Homo sapiens: one gene and its partner. Each later gene encodes a partner of the first gene's protein in a complex. Each region holds a gene or a part of one and is shown in the gene's direction. Other genes may lie near its edges. The genes, in order: RAB11FIP2 and RAB25.

Region 1 (5,056 bases):
TGACAGTCTTTATCCTGTTCTAGGACAGCAACCCCTTTGATGCCACTGCAGGGTATCGTAGTCTGACCTATGAAGAGGTTCTACAGGAGCTGGTGAAACACAAAGAACTCCTTAGGAGGAAAGACACCCACATCCGGGAACTCGAGGACTACATCGACAACCTCCTTGTAAGGGTAATGGAAGAAACGCCCAGTATTCTCAGAGTGCCGTATGAACCATCCAGGAAAGCTGGCAAATTCTCTAACAGTTAATAAAGCCAATTGTATTGTATTGATAATTGGACAAAGAGAGAGAAAGAAAGAAGGAAGGAAGGAAAAACTTGTTACTGAAAGAGACTACACTATCAGGTTTCATTACATATTCTCCTTTATTGTGAAGAGTAGTTTTACCTGTAAATATTAGCAGGGACTATCAAGAGTGACCTTTGAAGCAAGCTAAATCATTTAAATGTTTAAATTGAAAATGGGCCAGATTCTCAATGAATAAGTGGTTCCTTAGGACTCACTCAGGTGCTGGTACTGACCCACTAATCTGCCATAGGCCCAGAAATATCTTCAGAAGTACGTGAGTTGTTCCTCAGGAATAGATTTTTCATAAAGCAGAATTGATCCTGTGGCTGGTTTCTCAGAAATCAGTTTGTAGAAATATTTAGCTTCAGGAATACTGCTCGTTATAAACACTACTAAAAAAACAGTTTATATTTTATATACACATATGTACATGAATATATATATATTCATGTATCTTGTATATAAAATATAGGCATATACCTCATATATACATGTGTTTTTAGAACATTTAGAAACAATTGATTGCCTCTAAAGTTAGGCTACCAATTTCTTGATTTGAAAATGTGTGTGCTCTATTGATGCAAGACAAGTCATCCTTCCTACTGTCATGGTTTGTTATAGAGAAGCTGCTTCAAATCACTCTTGACTACATGGACCTTGGTTTCAAAGTGAGCTGCTATATATTATTCTAGCATCAAAGTTTTTCTCTTTCCCCAAAAGTGATGATCTCAAGTCCTTTTTTAAAGAATGACAAATTTTAGGAGACTTCATTAACTTCATAACAGCATGAATTTATTTGAATTAATTAACATTTGAGTTTGTTTAAGGTATAAGCAGAAGATAAGCTAATATAGCTTGTTTTGTTGAAATTCTGCATGCCTTTAAATCACTAGCAAAGCAAATATTATAAAGTTATATCTGAAAATAATTGTGGGAAGTATGTGATTGCCTGGTGTGTCTGATAACCCAAAGCAGCGGGCAGATTCCAGGAATGAAGAATTAGGCTTGGTTTCAGGTTACATAAATAATAGAGCAGATGGTTGCCTTTGGGTCTTGAACCAAAATAAGACTTACTAAAGGAAGAGTGAGTTTTTAGAAGAGAACTTTACGAGCGTGACATTATGCATTACTCCACATCCACCCTTTAAGAATTGATTTATTACAAAATTATGTTCTATTTTAAAGTCCACTCCCCCAAAATACTGATTTCTTCCATGGATTATTTTTATATGATTTGTACAAATTTTTTCTGAAATTTAAATTGACAAGCAATGTTATAAAAATATTGCTAATCTTCTGCTTATTTTTCAGCCTTTAAAGTCTGAAATACTATAAAACACTGAGAGTATCTATGTCTTTCTGAATTTAAAATGAAAATTCATGTCCATATGGAGACTTACATATTCCCCAATCTTTCCATGAATTGCATTTTTTTCTAATACTTATCTCTGTTAAGACTCCATTGAAAGTTAAACAAAAAGCCGATATAATAGTTTGGGTTTTTTTTTTTTGCTTATTTTAGTATTTTGAATCAGAGAATACTTGGCCAAGCTCGTATTTGTAAACTAAAACCCCTTGTTATTTGTATCTTCTGCATTTCAGTTTTACTGTAAGAACATACATTTTGAAATTATGAACATTTTTTTCATAAAAATTAAATGCTTTAAGAAATGGAGAAGGAAAAATAGCTTTTATCAATTTTTTTCTCCTCAAGATTCTGTAATAAACCTCAAAGTCTGGTGTAGAATGGTATTTTCCCGTTTGAGGTCTTGGTAGTTTTTTTTTTTTTTTTAAACATGGTGCCACTTTTAATTAACTAAATGTTACAAAATTCTCAGCATTTGTTTTTGTCTGGTAGTATTATTGAGTCTTTTCATACACTTCTTAAAATGTGAAAATCTATGTTTTCAGTATTATGACAGTATCTGCAGATACTATAATAATATGCTTTGGCCAAATTTGCTGTTTATAGAGTGAACCAAGATGTCAGTTTTGTATTGGGGATATGTTTTACATAAATAGAACTCATTTAAAAGTATGGTTCAAGTACTGCTCTTCTTTTTATGGGGAAATTGATTTTTAAGGAGCGATTCTTTTCCTATATAAAAGCTATTGAGGCTTAGCTTTATTCATACATGAGTGATTTGGTTATAACTCAATCAAAATTTTTATCTTTAAATCTGAGACAAGTATTATATTTAAAACTAGATCTATTAATACATTCATCACTGCCTGAAAATTTGCTGTTCTAATGTTTGTGAATTTTCACTCATTACCTAGAGTAAACTTATTGCATATTTTCATAATCAGTCAAAATAATAAAACTAAAAACAAAAAGTAAAAATTAGTTCCCAAGTAAATATATCAGTGTTTCCTGTGTTTGGGCAGAAGTGCAAAGTAGTTTTAATTTCTCACGTTGTAGAAAAAGAGGCCAAAAAGGTCACCTTAGTTTATTTTTCCAAAACATAACTTTAGGTATTCTAATGTATTTTGTTAGTTGCTTAGAAATGGAAATAAAATATATGTGCTTATTAAATAATGCACAGTACACTAGATTATAGAGTTTATTTTTGCTTTTATGCTTTAAAGAATGCATGCCCAAAACACTACTACCAACAAGAGGATTTTTTAAAATCACAGAATTGATATTTATCTCAAGACTATCTTAAGCTAATGTACTTCTGTTACATAATTAAACTATTTCTGCTATTATTTTTAAAGCAGTATTATTTTATAACCAATTCTAAAATTCAGCTTTAAAAATATTGAACATACCTTCCTACCACTTACGCTTCAAGTTTCATTTATTGAATACCAGGGTCATATCTTAGAATTGTATATAAAACAACATGTAACCCATTCATGAAAAACGTTTTTAAGTATTGCTTTTTGCTGCTATGTTCTGCATTGAGCCTAGTTTTGCCATTGTCCCCTGAATGTAGTATTATCTATAGATTATACATAACTACATCTATTGCTTTTGGTGGTAAATCAAGATTTAGTTGTAATTTTCCAGCTGTGAAAATGTTGCCTTGTATTTAAAAGGGTTTCATGAATGGAAACCTAAGTAAAACTAAGCTCATTAGTGACAGACTTGTTTTCTTCTTGTTATTCCTCCAGCAACTCCCTCACCACCACGCCTCCCTGCCTACCATCCCCGGAAGGGTGCTTATTCTTTAACAAAGAGAATCTAAAAAAAAAAACAAAAAACTGTTGTCTAATATATCTACAGTAAATGTTACACTAGAGCTTTTATTTTCCTCTGTAGCTTTTCAGAAGAAGCAATTTACCTTGGATTTGTAAATCAAGCTGAAACTTTTTTGATGTTCATGTACTCATATGTCTTGTAGGTGGTAGGTGTCACTTGTGTGTATGTGTAAGTGAAGTATGATGCATGCTCATTCACTTGGTCCCTTTGAAATAAGGGAAAGGATCACAGTGCTGCTGGGCCATGATGGTATGTAGAAGGGTCTGTCAGCACACATGGAAAGCCCCCATTTGCACAGATGTAGAACTTTAATAATCCAGATGCAATCATTGGAAGTATTTAATATGCAATTGGTAGCACCTTAGCTAATTAATCTGCATATGAAGCATTTTCTGATATATTTAATAAGAGGTATAGAAGCTCTTCAAGCATTAAAATAGAGTTGATGTTTCATTCCATTTGTTTTATCCATCAAAAAATGCACTCTCACAGTGGAGTTGAAGTCTAATACATGATACATGTGGGCCTGTTAGTCTTCGAAGCTTCCAGATGGTTTGTGTTTTGAGGTACAAAAAAATGCTGCAGATCTAGAAATGCATATATTTAGCGGGTATTTGAAAGATAGAAGCATTATTTATAACTGAAGAGTATAACACTTATCTTCTTAAGTAAATGCTCTCATAACTTGTATACATTTTTGCAGGTACAAATTCAAAAGTATGTAAGCATTGTATAATGTGACAATTGTATAATTTATGTAATCTGATGCATGAATCAGAATTTTTATATAATATATGATTATTGACTTATAGTTGATTAAAGTGTTTAAACTTAATTCAGTTGTCAACATTTATTACAGATACAGCGGTGTTACCATAATGGATTTATATATGAGTCCTCCTTGTTTTTTAATAAATACCTAGGATGCCTCTTATTTGGTGTATTGTAGCACATATTCTGTAAGACCTACAAACTTATTTTACTATGAAGATAGTTCTGAAAAGTCATTCAAAAGAGTAGTTTTTAAGTACAAGTGAACATTCTTCAACAAATGTGTGGATGCCCTCTACATATAAGACATCCCCTCATAGGGATGGAGCTTACGATTTAGTAGAAATGATATTTGAGTATTTATATATAGGCTAAGGTCTCTGCTGAGTACTTCCTATTTATGCTTTATTTTATTTCTCACAACAACCCTGTAAGGTAGGGAATGCACAAGCTTTCAGAGGAAATGTAAGAAAACCTTTTGTGGTACTGAAGAAAGTAGAATAGGGTTGGTACAGCCGGTAGCATTTTTCACCACTTCTTATCCTCCAGCATCTACCAGAAGTCATTAATCAGTCACCACTTCCAGTCCCCTCAACACAACAGTCTAAGTGCATGCCCCTCCATCCGAGGTATGGGTACATTTTTATGGCAGTGTATTAGGCAGTTGTATTCTAGATTATGGGACATGAACCATATGTAGTCTTAGACATAAATCATACATATTTGGCACAAGGGATTTCTCAGCAGACCAGAACGCCTTTCTGTTCTGGAATTGTAGTCCCTTCTG
Region 2 (6,845 bases), on another chromosome or scaffold:
ACATCCTCTTACCCACACATATCCATATTATTTCCAGCTTTTCCATACTGTCCTATGCAAATAAGGAATGTTTAAATATATATTTTTTATTTTTATTTTTTGAGACACAATTTCACTGTCACCCAGGCTGGAGTGCAGTGATGCCATCACAGTTCATTGCAGCCACAACCTACGGGGCTCAAACAATCCTTCCACCTCAGCCTCTTGAGTAGCTGGGACTACATGCATGTGCCACCACACTTGGCTAATTTTTTTTTCTTTTTCTTTTTTTTTTTTTGAGTCGGAGTTTCACTCTGTCACCCAGGCTGGAGTGCAGTAACACAAACTCGGCTCACTGCAGCACCCCCAGGGCTCAAGCAATCCTCCCACCTCAGCCTCCCAAGTAGCTGAGACTACAGACACATGCTACCATGCCTGGCTAATTTTTGCATTTTTTGTAGAGATGGGGTTTCACCGTGTTACCCAGGGTGGTCTCAAACTTGTGGGCTCAAGAGATACTCCCGCCTTGGCCTCCCAAAGTTCTGGGATTACAGGCGTGAACCTCCACACCCAGCCAAGGAACTTTTAAAGTTGGAGGAGGCCTTTATAAGTTGTATAAGCAAGGCAACTGAGACTGAGAAAAGGTGAGTCACTTGTTCAAGTTCACACAGTTAGTTAGAAGCTGAGCAGGGACCAGAGCCCACAATATGTGGCTCCCAGTCCTTGGGTGCCAGCCTGCCTTTCCAGAACCACTCTGGGTGGCCTCCTCTAATTCTGTGTGCTTAGTTCAGTGCCAGTGCAATTTGTGGGCTCTACTCACATCAGCCCCCTACACTCTACCCCAGCCCCCAGCTCATCCACATGGGTAAGACTGGGCCCTGGATGCTGCCCACCAGTCTAAAGGGTCTTCATGGCCCCTCAGGTGGATCCTTGTCTCTGAAAACCCAAAGGCAAAAACTCTGGCCTGCTAACAACAATCATACCAGTCATGATTTTTACACTTACTATATCCTGGGCAATGTCTCACTTACTTCCTACAATAACCCTTAAGGTAGATACTAATGTCTTCCCCATTTTTCATATGAAAAGAACAGCTCAGATTGGTTAAATAACTTGCCGAAGGACACATAGCTGGTCTAACACCCAGGCCCATGCTCTTAACCATGCGGGACTGTCCCTCCTTAGGGACAACTGGAACCTAACTTCTTACACACACATGAGCACACATGCCTTCCTCTCACCCACAGATGTGTCAACTGCCAAACTTTCTCCTTACCCACACTTTGATTCACACCTCTGTTCCTTATGCAAACACACACACACCAAACCTCCCACTTGTCCTCCCAGCTCATATATATAGAGACAAGTGCAATGTTCTCATACTCCAAGTCCTAGTCCAGAACTGTGCACCCCCTGACCTCCCACCATCCCTGTCCATATTCACACACAACAGTAATGTCTCCGCATGACACTCATAAAGAGCCCACAGATGTCACTCCCTCACCAGAGATGCAGGCTGACTCTGCAACCATGTATCAACAGACCAGGCTATAACCCGTCAAGCCCCTTTGTTTGTTTTAAACTCTTGGCTTTCCTGCCCACCAGGACAGATGCATTATGCAGAGTTGCAGACTCCAGTCTCACAGGAGACTCCGTTCCCTAATCTTTTTTCTGAGCTCAGTTCCCTTTTTCTGCTGGGCAGACCCTCCAAGCTCAGGTGGGGTTGGAGCTGCTCTACCCCATGCTCAGCCCTTATCTCTCCACTCCTTCAGTGGTGCTGATCGGCGAATCAGGTGTGGGGAAGACCAATCTACTCTCCCGATTCACGCGCAATGAGTTCAGCCACGACAGCCGCACCACCATCGGGGTTGAGTTCTCCACCCGCACTGTGATGTTGGGCACCGCTGCTGTCAAGGCTCAGATCTGGGACACAGCTGGCCTGGAGCGGTACCGAGCCATCACCTCGGCGTGAGCCCGGGCCTGGGGGGCTGCTGGGTGGTGGGAGTTCTGGGGAAGTCGAGGAACACTTCTGGAGGAGAAGTGGGGGAGGAGGAGGCAAGGGGGCTCAGCAGTGGGCTCTGGGGGGTGGGGATGGAGATCACAGAAGATAAAAGGTACTGTAAACAGAAACAGCACAAGCCAGGATATAGTAACACTGACTAGTACTACTAAAAGCAGGAATCATTGCCACTTACTAAGCCTTTGCTATGTGCCCAGGAAGGGACAAGTTACTTTACATTTGGCATTTTATGTAACCCTTAAAGTACCACAGGAGTAAAGTGCTATAATTAGTTAATTTCTGTATAAATACAAACAAGGTGAAATCAGGGTGGAGCTAGGATGGGGGCGAGCTGCACGGATCGAGAGCGCCCCCTCACTTCCGCACAATGCTCTGCACTTGGCAACTTTCATCTAACCACAGAGGACCAAAAGCTGAACCCAGCATCTGCATTTTATGAAGACTCAGAGGACACACAGGAGGTTAGGCCTCCTGACACCACATCCGAAGTGTCTCTTAGGCCGGGTGTGTTGGCTCACACCTGTAATCCCAGCACTTTGGGAGGCCAAGGTGGGTGGATCGCTTGAGCTCATGAATTCGAGACCAGCCTGGGCAACATGGCAAAATCCTGTCTCTACCAAAAATATAAAAAATTGGCCGGGCTTGGTGGTGCGTACCTGTAGTCCCAGATACTTGAGAAGCTAAGGTGGGAGGATGGCTTGAACCCGGGAGGCGGAAGTTGCAGTGAGCCGAAATCGCCCCACTGCACTCCAGCCTGGGTGACAAAGCGATACTGTGTCTCAAGAAAAAAGTGTCAGCTGGGCGCGGTAGCTCACACCTGTAATCCCAGCACTTTGGGAGGCCGAGGCGGGCAGATCACAAGGTCAGGAGTTCGAGACCAGCCTGGCCAACAGTGAAACCCCCGTCTCTACTAAAAATACAAAAATTAGCCAGGCATGGTGGTGGGTGCCTGTAATCCCAACTACTCGGGAGGCTGAGACAGGAGAATCACTCGAACCTGGGAGGTGGAGGTTGCAGTGAGCCAAGATCATGCCACTGCACTCCAGCCTAGCGACAGAGCAAGACTCTGTCTCAAAAAAAAAAAAAAAAGAAAAAGAAAGTGTCTTCCAGTCAGTGTGAGGCCTAAGCATGTGAAATGGGGTCTGTTTGTGTGTATATGGGGTGGATAGCACTTGCCAGGGGGCAGGAAGCAAGAGTCAGGGGCTTTGGTTACACATGCTCCTCGTTACCTGATCTCTTATGAGCCTCAGTTGACTCATCAATGAATTGGGAGTTAGACATCACTAGTCTGAAGACATCCCATCCAACTCCAAGAGGGAGACTGGATGCTTTCAGTGATGCCTTGAATGGTCAGGCCAGGGACTGCTGCAAGAGGTAGGCATTCAGCTAATCCTAGAAAGAAGGCCACGGGAGAGAACAGGCCACTGTTAAGGAGCCATGTGAGGAAGATCTTGAAGGTGGCAGAGTTGGCTAAAGCCCAGATGTGCACTGGTGGAGAGTAGGGGCTAAAATCAGGACGAGAACCTGAGAAAGTAGAGGGGCTGGCTGTGAGGAAGCCAATAGAGATTTTAGAGCAGGGAGGTGAAACTTTATTTATTTAGTTAGTTAGTTGAGACAAATTTTCACTCTTGTTGCCGAGGCTGGAGTGCAATGGAGCGATCTCAGATCACTGCAACTTCCGCTTCCCGAGTTCAAGCAATTCTCCTGCCTCAGCCTTCCGAGTAGCTGGGATTACAAGCATGCGCCATCATGCCCGGCTAATTTTTGTATTTTTAGTAGAGATGGGGTTTCTCCATATTGGTTAGGCTAGTCTTGAACTCCTCACCTCAGGTGATCCACCCGCCTTGGCCTCCCAAAGTGCTGGGATTACAGGCGTGAGCCACCGCGCCTGGCCGAGGGAGGTGAAACTTTACAGGCTCCAAGACTAGTGTCCCTGGAAGGCAGAGGAGCCTTGGGCTGCTCTGTTGGGTTCTGGGCCCCTGGCCGCAAGTTTCTGTATTTCCTGATCTCTAGTACTCTGATCCCGGGTGTTCCAGCTTGACGGCTCTGCTCTGATGCTGGGTCCAATGCCTCTGATCGTATCTCTGTCCATCCTTCTCATTCCCACCCAGGTACTATCGTGGTGCAGTGGGGGCCCTCCTGGTGTTTGACCTAACCAAGCACCAGACCTATGCTGTGGTGGAGCGATGGCTGAAGGAGCTCTATGACCATGCTGAAGCCACGATCGTCGTCATGCTCGTGGGTAACAAAAGTGACCTCAGCCAGGCCCGGGAAGTGCCCACTGAGGAGGCCCGAATGTTCGCTGGTGAGAGCCTGCCACTACCCAGGCTGACTCCTCCAAGCTTAGCCCACCTTTCCCTTGCAGTCTCCCAGCCCCTGCCCCCACCCATAGAGCCCCTAGCCTGGCCTTCCTCCATACAGTCCTCTACCCCATCCCCTCTTCCTCAGGATTTCCCAGCACTTCCCCTTTGGGACCCTGTGTCTCCCATGATGTCCCACCACTTGCCCTGAGATTGTCTTTATTGATTTTTTTTTTTTTTTTTTTTTTGAGACCGGGTCTCAATCTGTTGCCTAGGCTAGAGTGCAGTGGTGCGATCTCGGCTCGCTGCAACTTCCACCTCTTGGGTTCAAGCAATTCTCATGCCTCAGCCTCCTGAGTAGCTAAGACTACAGGTGTGCGCCACCATGCCTGGCTAATTTTTGTATTTTTAGTAGAGATGGGGTTTCATCGTGTTGACCAGGCTGGTCTCGAACCCCTGACCTCAGGTGATCCAGCTGCCTCGGCCTCCCAAAGTTCTGGGATTATAGGTGTGAGCCACTGTGCCCGGCCCGTAGTTAATTTTAAGGCAGCCCCACCCTGTAATGCTCAAAGATCCTATGGAGAGGATAGGCTTCCCAGGAGTTTTCTGAGTTTAGAGGCAGCACAATATGGTGGTTAAGGGTGTTCTGGAGTCCCATGGCCCAGTCTCCCATCTGCTCTTGGCCAGTTACTAAATGTGGGACATGGAGCAATTTCCTTATTCTTTTTCTTTTTCTTTTTTTGAGAGGAGTCTCGCTCCGTCACCCAGGCTGGGGTGCAGTGGCACGATCTTGGCTCACTGCAACCTCCACCTCCTGGGTTCAAGCAATTCTCTGCCTCAGCCTCCCGAGTAGCTGGGATTACAGGTGCCCGCCACCATGCCTGGCTAATTTTTGTATTTTTAGTGGAGACGGGGTTTCACCATGTTGGCCAAGCCGGTCTTGAACTCCTGACCTCGTGATCCACCCACCTCAGCCTCCCAAAGTGCTGGGATTACAGGCGTGAGCCACCGCACCCAGCCCCTTATTTGTTTTCTTTGTGTTTCTGGATTCAGTTTTCTAAATGAACCTACCTTGTAAGTTGTTTTAAGGATTAAATGATCTGCTACATGCCAAGAGTTTAGCACATGGCAAATGTATATAGCAAACATTAATATTATTATTATTATTGCCTTTGACTCCCACAATTAATGGTGTGTTTCCCTTCCTGGCAGAAAACAATGGACTGCTCTTCCTGGAGACCTCAGCCCTGGACTCTACCAATGTTGAGCTAGCCTTTGAGACTGTCCTGAAAGGTTAGAGCCTACCTTTATTCTGCACCCCTATTCCATCCCCGTGGCTTCTACAGGCAGCAGTAGGAATGCAGACACTCAGCCCTCACCCCAGCTAATTTCTCAGCTCCTCTGTGGGTCCTGGCACCACTGCCTGTCCCCCTCAGTCCCTCCCCAGTGCCTCCCACTCAGTCTGGAGCTCAGGGAGGGAACAGGCCACACTCCCCATGGGGCTGACTCTTGGTTCCTTCTCCACCCAAGTAAGTAGAAGGGACCCCTATGTCCACACTTCATTTCCTTCCTGCAAAACCTCCTGCAAGTGTGGCCACCCCCCATGCTCAGAAGGGGCATGCAGTATGTATGGGGGGGTTGGGGAGAAGGGAGCATGGGCTCTAAATCTTCTGGCCTGATCACTGCCCTCTGCCCTCCCAGAAATCTTTGCGAAGGTGTCCAAGCAGAGACAGAACAGCATCCGGACCAATGCCATCACTCTGGGCAGTGCCCAGGCTGGACAGGAGCCTGGCCCTGGGGAGAAGAGGGCCTGTTGCATCAGCCTCTGACCTTGGCCAGCACCACCTGCCCCCACTGGCTTTTTGGTGCCCCTTGTCCCCACTTCAGCCCCAGGACCTTTCCTTGCCCTTTGGTTCCAGATATCAGACTGTTCCCTGTTCACAGCACCCTCAGGGTCTTAAGGTCTTCATGCCCTATCACAAATACCTCTTTTATCTGTCCACCCCTCACAGACTAGGACCCTCAAATAAAGCTGTTTTATATCAATGCCTGGTCATTCCACTGCCTCCCGTCTGTTCCTCCCTCTTCTCCTTGTCTGTGCCTCCCCTTCAACTTTGGCCCCTCCTCTGAGTCCCTAATCCCCTTCCTCTGTCCTCCCCACCATACCTACTGCCCCTCAGGGCCAGCTGCCTCTGGAGTTCTGTGGTCTGGGGACAGTGCCAAGGGGATAGGAGGTGCCTGCCCTTCCCTCTGCCAACCCCCAGGGCAGGTGGGGGAGGGAGGAGAGCATGGAGGGGAGGGGGTATATCTGGAAGGCGAGACAAAGGAAACCATCGGCGGGCACCATCTGGTGCTGAGGGCCCTGGTGCCAACAACTGAGGTCACTCCAATGCCAGGGGCAAGGGGAGGAGGCAGCGGGAGATACAAGGGGAGAAGAGGGAGTGGGGGCCAGTCCTGTAGGTGTGTACTGGGGAAGGGGTTTTTAAGCCTGAGAGGTGCAAGGTCCAAGTCCTCCATCCAGTCTTTTTTTTTTTTGAGATGGAGTC

What was found.
Region 2: the proteins of RAB11FIP2 (region 1) and RAB25 are in contact, whole or in part, in a crystal structure (PDB 3TSO), measured with the Homo sapiens proteins. Residues at the interface, in NP_055719.1 of Homo sapiens: Arg475, Glu478, Ile481, Asp482, Asn483, Leu485, Val486, Met489, Pro493, Ser494, Leu496, Arg497, Val498, Pro499; in NP_065120.2 of Homo sapiens: Arg34 (codon at 1,808), Ile45 (codon at 1,841), Gly46 (codon at 1,844), Val47 (codon at 1,847), Glu48 (codon at 1,850), Phe49 (codon at 1,853), Ser50 (codon at 1,856), Thr51 (codon at 1,859), Lys62 (codon at 1,892), Trp66 (codon at 1,904), Arg73 (codon at 1,925), Arg75 (codon at 1,931), Ala76 (codon at 1,934), Ile77 (codon at 1,937), Ala80 (codon at 1,946), Tyr81 (codon at 4,112).

The regions. Positions count from the first base shown.
Region 1 is NC_000010.11:118,004,193-118,009,248, reverse strand, and holds the end of RAB11FIP2 (rab11 family-interacting protein 2), read left to right. Parts: intron 1-23; coding exon 24-251; 3' UTR 252-4,333; downstream 4,334-5,056. UniProt on the Homo sapiens protein: A Rab11 effector binding preferentially phosphatidylinositol 3,4,5-trisphosphate (PtdInsP3) and phosphatidic acid (PA) and acting in the regulation of the transport of vesicles from the endosomal recycling compartment (ERC) to the plasma membrane.
Region 2 is NC_000001.11:156,064,160-156,071,004, forward strand, and holds the end of RAB25 (ras-related protein Rab-25 precursor), read left to right. Parts: intron 1-1,751; coding exon 1,752-1,947; intron 1,948-4,110; coding exon 4,111-4,304; intron 4,305-5,511; coding exon 5,512-5,592; intron 5,593-6,000; coding exon 6,001-6,128; 3' UTR 6,129-6,345; downstream 6,346-6,845. UniProt on the Homo sapiens protein: The small GTPases Rab are key regulators of intracellular membrane trafficking, from the formation of transport vesicles to their fusion with membranes.